Regions from separate parts of the Homo sapiens genome. Here region 1 is linked to region 2. Evidence: fine-mapped expression QTL. A gene starts in region 2. The other region holds a variant in brackets. All regions are shown on one strand. Distances are between the middles of the regions.

Evidence for each region. PIP is the estimated chance that this variant, and not a neighbour inherited with it, causes the effect.
Region 1: its variant is fine-mapped to the expression of SNX29-AS3 in neutrophils (BLUEPRINT, PIP 0.95).

What each region holds. Positions count from the first base shown.
Region 1 is chr16:12,649,258-12,654,638 of GRCh38, reverse strand. LOC105371088 (a long non-coding RNA gene) reads left to right here and starts at 1,266. Exons shown (of 2, transcript XR_933085.3): 1 at 1,266-1,450; 2 at 2,131-2,855. The variant T/C (reference allele first, on the strand shown) is at 2,645.
Region 2 is chr16:12,608,217-12,613,597 of GRCh38, reverse strand. It overlaps SNX29-AS3 (SNX29 antisense RNA 3), which reads left to right and starts at 2,456. Exons shown (of 4, transcript XR_007064988.1): 1 at 2,456-2,860. RefSeq lists enhancers at 1-122, 1-452 and a cis regulatory region at 613-992.

The DNA.
Region 1 (5,381 bases), 41 kb before region 2:
ATACAGTTAAAAATGGGCCAGGCACGGTGGCTCACACCTGTAATCCCAGCACTTTGGGAGGCCAAGGCAGGTGGATCACTTGAGGTCAGGAGTTCGAGACCAGACTGGCCAACGAGGTGAAGCCCCATCTCTACTAAAAATTAAAAAATTAGCCAGGCGTGGTGGCGCACGCCTGTAGTCCCAGCTTCTCGGGAGGCTGAGGCAGGAGAATCGCTTGAACCCACGAGGCAGAGGTTGTAGTGAGCCCAGATCGTGCCATTGCACTCCAGCCTGGGCAACAGAGAGAGATTCTGGGAAAAAAAAAGAAAGGAGAGAGAGAGAGAGAGAAGGAAGGGAGGGAGGGAGGGAAAGAGAAGAAAAAGAAAGAAAGGAAAGAAAGAAGAAAGAAAGGAAGGAAGGAAAGGAAAAAGAAAAAGAGAAGAAAAAGAAGGAAAGAGAAAAGGAAAAAAGAAAAAAGAGAAAGAAAAAGAAAGAAAGAAAGAAAAAGAAAGAAAGAATGAAAAAGAAAGAAAAAGGAAGGAAAGAAAGAAAAGGAAGGGAGAAGTGTTAAAGGGATGGAGTTGGGCCACCTGGGTTCCATTGCTAGCTCTGCCACTCAATGATTCTGCGGCCTTGGGTAGGTCATGTCCTGTTTCTGAGACTCAGTTTCTTTATCTATAAAATGGGGACAATATAGTACCTTTCCCTTAAGGTTAACATGAGCCTTCTTGACACCTTAGCACTGATACATGAGCAAATCTTGGCAGAATATAACCAAATGCTTCTGCACTGTCCATTGTGTCTGTGCAGAGTATTTGCATAATAGATAATCATGACATTGATCATCTTCAAACATCACGTGTTTGTTCCTCCACCCTCATCCCCCAGCACAGAGCCCAGCCGTGCATCCATGAGGGGCCCATGGTCCCCCTTAAAATGTGCTTAGCCTCCCAGACTGGGTTCTTAAAGCTAGATTTGGGCTGGGTGCAGTGACTTATGCCTGTAATTTCAGCACTTTGGGAGGCAGAGGTGGGGGGATATCACCTGAGGTCAGGAGTTCGAGACCAACTAGCCAACATGGTGAACCCCATCTCTACTAAAAATACAAAAATTAGTCGAGTGTGGTGGCACATGCCTGTAGTCCCAGAAACTCGGGAGGCTGAGGCAGGAGAATCACTGATCCCAGGAGGTGGAGGTTGCAGTGAGCCGAGATTGCACCACTGCACTTCAGCCCAGGCAACAGAGTGAGTGAAGCTTAGTCTCAAAAACAAACAAACAAACAAAAAAAAACTACATTTGATAGCACAGCAGCAGTCAAATTTTTTTATAATGCAGCTTCAAAGGAACAAAACAAACTTTCCCTCTTGTCTATAAAGGAGCAGGCAGCTGAGACGTCAGCTACGTGGCCTGAGACTATTGTGATTACTTCCCATGTATGAACTCACTGAGCGCTAAAAACAACCCCACCAAGGTAAGTATTTTGATTATTCCCATTTTTCAGATGAGAAAACTGAGACCTCAGACACTGAGGAACTTGCTCAAGGTCACGTAGCTTGTGAGTGTCAGAGTTGGGATTCAAACCCAAGCATTGTGGTCCCAGCACCAATTACCCCTCCACTGTACCAAGCCTCTAGCCTTCTGTGGCAGGGGGAGTTGGAATGACATATGTACTCCCTTACCCAAAAAGGATAAAGCATGTTCACAAATAGGACCCCAGGCTTTCTTCTTTTAGATGAAGAAGCAGGTCTGCTCCTCTTGGAATCAGACACTGGAATGTAAATTATTTTTGGCCGGGAGCAGTGGCTCACGCCTATAATCCCAGCACTTTGGGAGGTCAAGGTGGGCAGATCACTTGAGGTCTGGAGTTCGAGACCAGCCTGGCCAACATGGTGAAACCTCATCGCCACTAAAAATACAAAAATCAGCCAGGCATGGTGGTGTGCGCCTATAATCCCAGCTACTCGGGGGGCTGAAGCAGGAGAATTGCCGTTGCACTCCAGCCTAGGCAACAGAGTGAGACTCTGTCTCCTCAAAAAAAAAAAAAAGTAAGTAAATTATTTTCATCCTCAAATTATGTCTCCACTGACAAATGGAACCAAGTTTATTTATTTCATTATTCAATTTAGTTAAGTATTTTTTTTTCTCTCCAAGGAATTCTAGGAATAAAGTCACACATTACCCGAAAGATCTCCAGCAGAGGCGTTTCTGGGCCAACGTTACTCACCTACGGAGAGTCTGCAGCTCCTAGCTTGGATGAAAGGAAAGTTTCATTAGCTTTATTTACTTCTTCCGACGTAATTGGTCAGCAGAGTATAAATGCTGATGTCATGTCTAATTAGCGGTGGCCTCTGCCCTTCTGGTCACAGCACCGCGTCTGGCTTGTTTGTGTGGATGGAGCAGTTTCACGGGGAGCGTCTTTATGAACTAGCTCTCCCATGGAGCTGCTCTAATTATCATTTAAGAAAACAAGCGTTTTGATGTTGTGTAGACAGTTCAGCAACATCTCCCCAGCAGGGCTGATAATTTTAACACCCTTTCAGTACATGATGGGCTTTTTCCACAGGTGATCACATCAGATCCTGGGGAACCAGAAATTGGGAACTCATGTCTGCTCCTCTTTGTCGTGGACACCTTGCTGATCTTGGCTCCAGTCGGATCCGTCAGG[T/C]GCTCTAAAGCTAATTGTATTGGCATGGATTTTGCCAGGCATCCAAAATTCAGATTAAACAACCAATGCAATCATCATGCCCCTGGGTACCATTTATTGTGATGAAATCAGACCTAACATAAAGGAAACAGTTCAATACCTAAAAGATTTAGCGTGGATACAAATATTCATTGATACTAATAAATTTTACAGTATGCTTTGTTTAAAAACAGAAAGGAGTAGTTAATTACAGACTGAGAATGTCAATTTGACAACAACACTTTCTTCTTGGTTTACATCATTCAGTTCCAGAAAATCAGTAAGATAAAAGCCATGCGCCACTGGGGGAGAAAGGAGGTGACCTCCAGGTTCTCTTTCTCTCTCACACAGACACTTCTCAACCCCAGTGACCTCTGCTTTTCCATCCAAACACAGGACCAATCGCCAGACTCCAGTTTGCTTCCAGGACTTTATATGGCACCCTGAGGACAGCTCATTCCACCATGTCCCCCACCCATATCATCCTTCCTCTCCATGCAGACTCTAGCTCAATCTGTCAATCCAGTCTTCTGGTTTTTGGGTTTTTTTTCTCTCTCTCTTTTTTTTTTTTTAAGGCAGAGCCTCACTCTGTCGCCCAGGCTGGAGTGCAGTGCAGTGCTGCCGTCTCAGCTCACTGCAACCTCTGCCTCCCAGCTCAAGTGATTCTCGTGCTTCAGCCTCCCGAGTAGCTGGAACTACAGGTGTGTGCCACCACACCCAGCTAATTTTTCTTTTTTCTTTTTTTTTTTTTTTGTATTTTCAGTAGAGATGGGGTTTCATGTGTTGGTCAGGCTGGTCTCGAACTCCTGGCCTCAAGTGATTCACCCACCTCTGCCTCCCAGAGTGCTGGGATTACAGGTGTGCACTGCCACGCTGGGCCCAGACTTGTGTTCTTGTGCACACACACAGCACGCTTCCTTTCCCCCTTCCTGCCCCTCCTTCTCTCAATTTTCCACTGAAGCCCCCAGAGCTCTTGTTTCTGTGAAGCAAATCCCCCTGCATTCTCAGCCTCTCCTCTGAGTCCTGAGCCCCTCTTACTCCTCGTTTTACTTTGTCTGCAACTCCCTCTGAGTAGAAGCTGTTCCCTCCTCCATGTGCCACTTTCCACGATGCCCATAAACCAGCTAGGGGTCTTCCAGTTCCCCAGTGTGCCCTCCACTGCCTTTCACTCATTTCCTTTTTTCTTTTTAGAGACAGGGTCTTGCTCTGTGGCCCAGGCTGGAGTGCTGTGCTCTGATCATAGCTCACCACAGCCTTGACTTCCGGGCTCAAGTGATCCATCCTCCTGCCTCAGTCTCCTAAGTAGTTGTGATTACGGGCGTGCACCACCACACCTGGCTAATTTTTTTAAAAAAATGTAGAGATGGGGTAGGGAGCTATGTTGCCCAGGCTGGTCTTGAACTCTTGGGCTCAAGCTATCCTCCTGCCTCAGCCTTCCAAAGTGCTGGGATTTCAGGTGTGACCCACTGTGCCCAGACTTTACACTCATTTCTACATTAATTCAGCAAATTATCGAGTACCTACTCTGTGCCAGGGATATATCTGATGGCTCCTTCTCATGGAAATCACCCAGTGATTTCCTGGTGACTCATCTCTCTTTTATAGAAGGTTCTTGGATTTGATTAACAGTCTTTCTGACCACCGAAATGTAACCTCCATCCAGGGTGACTTACTGTCCATGGGAACCACCCACCTATGATGGACACCTGTGCAGCATCCATTATGCCTTTTTTTTTTTTTTTTTTTTTTTTTGAGACAGAGTCTTGCTCTGTCACCCAGGCTGGAGTGCAGTGGTGCAACTTTGGCTCACTGCAACCCCTGCCTGCCAGGTTGAAGTGATTCTCCTGCCTCAGCCTTCCGGGTAGCTGGGATTACTACCACGCCCAGCTAGTTTTGTATTTTTAGTAGAGAGGGGGTTTCATCATGTTGGTCAGGCTGGTTTTGAACTCCTGACATCAAGTGATCTGCTTGCCTCCCAAAGTGCTGGGATTACAGATATGAGCCACCATGCCTGGCCCATTATGCCTTCTCACTGTACTTTGGAGGTCCTACTATCCCCGACATTAGTTTCTGTTGTTTAGATGGCACTGGCGTTATCCTGGGCTTTGCCATGGTGGAAGCAGAAGTACCTGTGAGGTATCAGGTGCCACAGTTCTGGCCACATGCCAGGGGTGTCACAGAGGGCCACAGAACCCAAGTCAAACCAAGGATGTGTATCCCAGGCTTCTCGTTGGATGTATTAGCAGAAGATCTCTTTCCACTGGAGTTCGCTGGAAGGGGTGGTGCATGTTTGGAACTGGTGGGGGATCCCACCTAGAAGAGAGCTTACCAAGGAATGTAGCCATCATAGAAGAAACTAGGGAAGAGAAACAGGGAGAAGAGAGAATAAGAAGAAAGAAGCAAGGGACCAGAATGAACCCCTGGGTCTAGCCATACCTGAAGCTAGTCAGTGCCTGGCTGCCAATAACTTTCTTTCTTTGCTTCAGTCAGTTTTCTGTTGTTTGCAAACCAAAAGAGGCCTGATTGCTACAACATTCCACAATGTTGATCTCAAGTCCCATTTCTTGTCCATTCTACCTCTGCAACTGACTCCCATAAGCCAGAGCTAGAGGCTGGGGAGGGGGTTTTAGGCTTGACAAGGGAGTATGTTTTTTGTTTGTTTTTTTTTTTTGAGACAGAGTCTTACTCTGTCGCCCAGACTGGAGTGCAGTGGTACAAT
Region 2 (5,381 bases):
GAAAAGGAACAAGCATCCTGTCTTGGTCCCTGTCCTTCAGCCCTTGAGTTCAAAGGGCAGAGGCATCGAAATGTTTGTCGGATTAATGATTAACATCTGCTGGTCTGCCGCCGTTCTCCTTGGGAGCATGGCCAAGGTCTACATCCCCTATTCTTCCCCCTCTATCTGGCTTGATCTGTGACTTTCATCTAATTTACAAACATTTGCATTGAAATGACAATCTCAAGGCTCAAAGACTTCAACCTCAAGCACCATGTAGTAGCCCAGTGAATTTTTTTTTTTTTTAAGCAGCGGGGGTGGGCTTTGGGGAGACGGGGGAATGAGTAAGAAACTTCTTGGGTCTGTTATCAGAGGCATTCGAACCAGAGCAACTCCGTCCTGAATGAGGGCTAGGAAAATGAGGCTGGAACTTGGGAGGCGGCATTCTGGACTGGTAGCTATTCTTGGCCTCTAGATGTTTCTGGTTAAGGGAACAGATTAATAACACTTAAAAATTATTGATGCCACAAAAGAAATAGCACTTGAAAATTTCCTCAAGGCAATTTTACTTCTATAGAAGGGTGACTTACAGATGGAGCAATGGCGAGAGCACAGCTGAACCAAGGGAGAGGAAGGGGTTCTTATTTCTGAGACAGGTAGCCTCTACTGCTGTCATTCCCCTATTGGCTAGGGTTGGACCACAGTGTAAGCTAATTCCGAATGGCTATTTTAAAGAGCAGTGGGTACAAGTCTGAGAAGCAGGAATGACTGCTACAGAACCGGTGACTCACGATGATTGAAGTCAGAGCAGGTAACCAGCGTTGACTCAGGATGGAGTAGGTGACCAGGGCAACACATGTGACCTACTGATTAGAACTGGTGGAAAAGCTTGTTTACTGAAACTAGGGGCAAGGAGATGAGAACGAGGAAGTTAAACTTTAAAATGGACAAAACGGGAGCCGAACGTGTACTGATAGATTGGCTCTTTGGATGGGATGTCAGAACTCATTGTACTTAACAATTGACAGGCTAAAATCTTGGAAGAGGTATTACATCCTTCAATGCTTACTAAAGAGACCCAGATGTGGGAGTGTCATGTTATCCTGATACCTTGAACAGAAGGATTCGTAATTTCGCTTCGAAGATAATACTGATTCTTGTAAAATGTAGTAATTAAGAATTATTACAAATCCTTGTAGCAGAGCATGTCTCTCATCAAGATGTTTTGTTTTTTGATGCAGTCTTGCTCTGTTGTCCAGATTGGAGTACAATGGTGCAGTCTCAGCTCATTGCAACCTCTACCTCCCGGGTTCAAGCAATTCTCCTGCCTTAGCCTCCCAAGTAGCTGGGCGCACAGGCACGTGCCACCACCCCTGGCTAATTTTTGTATTTTTTAGTACAGACTGTTTGACCATGTTGTGTAGGCTAGTCTCAAACGCATGACCTCAAGTGATCCCCCCCACCTCAGCCTCACAAAGTGCTGGGATTACAGGCGTGAATCACCATGCCCGGCCCCTCATGATCTTTTTTATTCTCTATAAACAAGCATTGTACCTAGAGTGGATGCATTCCCCTTTCTTTTGGGAATGCCCTACTCTATGGCTAACAGTACTTAGGCTACTTCCTTAATAAACATACTTTTGCTTTGCACTGTGGACTTGCCCCTGAATTCTTTTGTGCACGAGATCCAAGAAGCCTCTCTTGGGGGTCTGGATCAGGACCCCTTGCCTGTAACATTGTTACCTCCCTTTTCGACCAAAGCAGCCTCATTTTTTTTATTGCATTGTGGTGTGGAGCCCCAAAACTAGTTGGCATCTCTGGACCCCTAAAGATCTAGGTAACACTTGGTGAATTTTTAAAATCTCCCTTTTCATGGGTTTTTAGAAATTCAAAGTACTCTCCAAGATTTTCCCAAATCCCAGGTGCTTCTACCATTATTGTTACATGAAAGGGTTCCTGATGCAGTCCCGAGAGAGATGGTTCTTGGATCTCCTGCAAGAAAGAAAGAAAGCACAAGTCTGTAAAGTGAAAGCAAGGTGATTAAGAAAATCAAGGAATAAAGAATGGCTACTCAATAGACAGAGCAGCCCTGAGGGCTGCTGGTTGCCTTTTTTTATGGCTATTTCTTGACATGCTAAACAAGGGGTGGATTATTCATACCTCCCCTCTTTAGACCATATAGGGTAACTTCCAGATGTTGCCATGGCATTTGTAAGCTGTCATGGCAGTGGTGGGAGTGTAGCAGTGAGGACGGTCAGAGGCCACTTTAAGCACCATCTTGGTTTTGGTGGGTTTTGGCCGGCTTCTTTACTGCAACCTGTTTTATCAGCAAACAGGTCGGCACAAGATACAGCTATCTCATCCTGTGACTAAGTGTCTTAAGCGTCTGGGAATGCAGCCCAATAGTTTCAGCCTCATTTTATCCAGCTCCTACCCAAGATGGAGTTGCTCTGGTTCAAATCCCTCTGACACCATTATGACATCTTCTCTAATTTTCATGCTTGTGTGAAATTATTTGGGCTGAAGTGGTCAGACAGCTTGGGCTACCTTGTCACCATATTGTGCTAGGTGGAGGCTACTGCCTCTAGAAGACTGTCTATTGTGCCTTGAATACACAGCATTGACTTTGCAGGGTCATCTTGCTGGATAACATAGCACCACCCAAACAGGAGAATTGAGGCTGAGACTGGATCAGGCCCAGTGGAACATAGCGAAATGAGAATAAGCTTTCGTGTTAGAATCCTGCCTATGTGATCTCCAGCAACTTAACATCTCTGAGCCACTTCATTTATCTGGAGAATGGGGCTAAATCTTCCTGAGTTTTTGAGGCTTACAGCGAATAATGTACGGCACCTGACATGCAGTAAACAAGAAATCAAAGGTAAATACCATTATTCAGTCTTCAGCACAGAATTTGTTCATTTTCTTACCATACCGCCCTTCCTCCCCCACTTTATAAAGAACAGAGACAGATCTCATTTTTTCAGATCTAACAGGTACCCCCATCCCCATGACTGGCTTTCAATAGATTGATCATAGTGTGCAGAGGTCAGCAAACTTTGGCCCACCTGTTTAGTAAATAAAGGTGAGTTGGAACACAGCCTTGTCCACGCATCAGTTGAATAGTTGGCAATGGGAATCTCATGATCTGCACCTAAAAATATTTGGCCCTTTACAGAAATACTTGGCCATCCCCTGGCTTATAGCCGGTTGTGTTTTGTTTCCCTGTGTCTCTTTCCCACCCCAGCTGGGATTCAGGCTAGCCTGTTTGTCTAATCAGATCTGAGGAAAGTGCATTCAGTTGATGAAATCGGCTAACAAGGGTTCATTGCTACGGGCTCATTGTGTTTGGAGATGGGGAATGTGCGTGGGTTGGTCAGAGCCTTAACCCACAGCCCTGCTCCCAGGAAGCTTTCTGACCACTTCTGTGGATAAACAAGGCACGCATAGCTGGGCACAGTAGCTCACACAACACCTGCACTTTGGGAGGCCGAGGCAAGAGGATGGCTTCAGCTCAGGAGTTTGATACCATCCTGGGAAACAAGGCAAAACCCTGTCTCCACTAAAAACACAAAAATTAATGGGGTGTGGCAATATGTGCCTGTAATCCCAACTACTTGGGAGGCTGAGGGAGGATGGCTTGAGCCCAGGAGGTAGGGGCTGGAGTGTACTATGATTGTGCCGTTGCACTGCAGCCTGTGTAACAGAGCAAGAACCTGTCTCAAAAATACAAACAAAATATAAAAAAGCCATGTGAGCCACAGGCCAGAACTTTAACCCAAACTTGTATACGGATTAGCTTCAACCTTTTAATCTATCTGGGCCTCAGTTCCCCCATCCATTAAATGGCAATAATTTTAAGTTTTACGGTACATGTGCATAACATGCAGGTTTGTTACATAAATACACATGTGCCATGTTGCTGTGCTGTACCCATTAACTTGCTTAACATTAGGTGTATCTCCTAATGTTATGCCTCCCCCTCCCTCCACCCCACAACAGGCCCCAGTGTGTGATGTTCCCCTTCCTGTGTCCATGTGTTCTCATTGTTCAACTCCCACCTATAAGTGAGAATATGCTGTGTTTGGTTTTTTGTCCTTGCCATAGTTTGCTGAGAATGATTGTTTCCAGCTTCATCCACATCCCTACAAAGGACATGAACTCATCATTTTTTATGGCTGCATAGTATTCCATGGTGTATATGTGCCACGTTTTCTTAATCCAGTCTATCATTGTTGGACGTTTGGGTTAGTTCCAAGTCTTTGCTATTGTGAATAGTGCTGCGATAAATATCTGTGCATGTGTCTTTATGGCAGCATGTTTTATAGTTCTTTGGGTATATACCCAGTAATTGGGATAGCTGGGTCAAATGGTATCTTTAGTTCTAGATCCCTGAGGAATCGCCACACTGACTTCCACAATGGTTGAACTACTTTACAGTCCCACCAACAGTGTAAGTGTTCCTATTTCTCCATATCCTCCCCAGCACCTGTTGTTTCCTGACTTTTTAATGATTGCCATTCTAACTGGTGAGATGGTATCTCATTGTGGTTTTGATTTGCATTTGATGGCCAGTGATGAGCATTTTTTCATGTCTGTTGGCTGCATAAATGTCTCCTGAGAAGTGTCTGTTCATATCCTTTGCCCACTTTTTGATGGGGACTTTTTTTTCTTGTAAATTTTGAGTTCTCTGTAGATTCTGGATATTAGCCCTTTGTCAGATGGGTAGCTGGCAAAAATTTTCTCCCATTCTGTAGGTTGCCTGTTCACTCTGATGGTAGTTTGTTTTGCTGTGCAGAAGCTCTTTACTTTAATTAGATCCCATTTGTCAATTTTGGTTTGGTTGCCATTGCTTTTGGTGTTTAAGACATGAAGTCCTTGCCCATGTCTATGTCCTGAATGGTAATGCCTAGGTTTTCTTCTAGGGTTTTTATGGTTTTAGGTCTAAAGTTGAAGTCTTTAATCCATCTTGAATTTTTGTATGAGGTGTAAGGAAGGGATCCAGTTTCAGCTTTCTACATATGGCTAGCCAGTTTTCCCAGCACCATTTATTAAATGGGGAATCCTTTCCCCATTGTTTTTCTCAGGTTTGTCCAAGATCAGATAGAAATAAAGCCACATATCTACAACTGAGGGCTCTGTTCTGTTCCATTTATCTATATCTGTTTTGGTACCAGTACCATGCTGTTTTGGTTACTGTAGCCTTGTAGTATAGTTTCAAGTCAGGTAGTGTGATGCCTACAGCTTTGTTTTTTGCCTTAGGATTGATTTGGCAATGTGGGCTCTTCTTTGGTTCCATATGAACTTTAAGGTTTTTTCCAATTTAGTGAAGAAAGTCATTGGTAGCTTGATGGGGATGGCATTGAATCTGTAAATTACCCTGGGCGGTATGGCCATTTTCA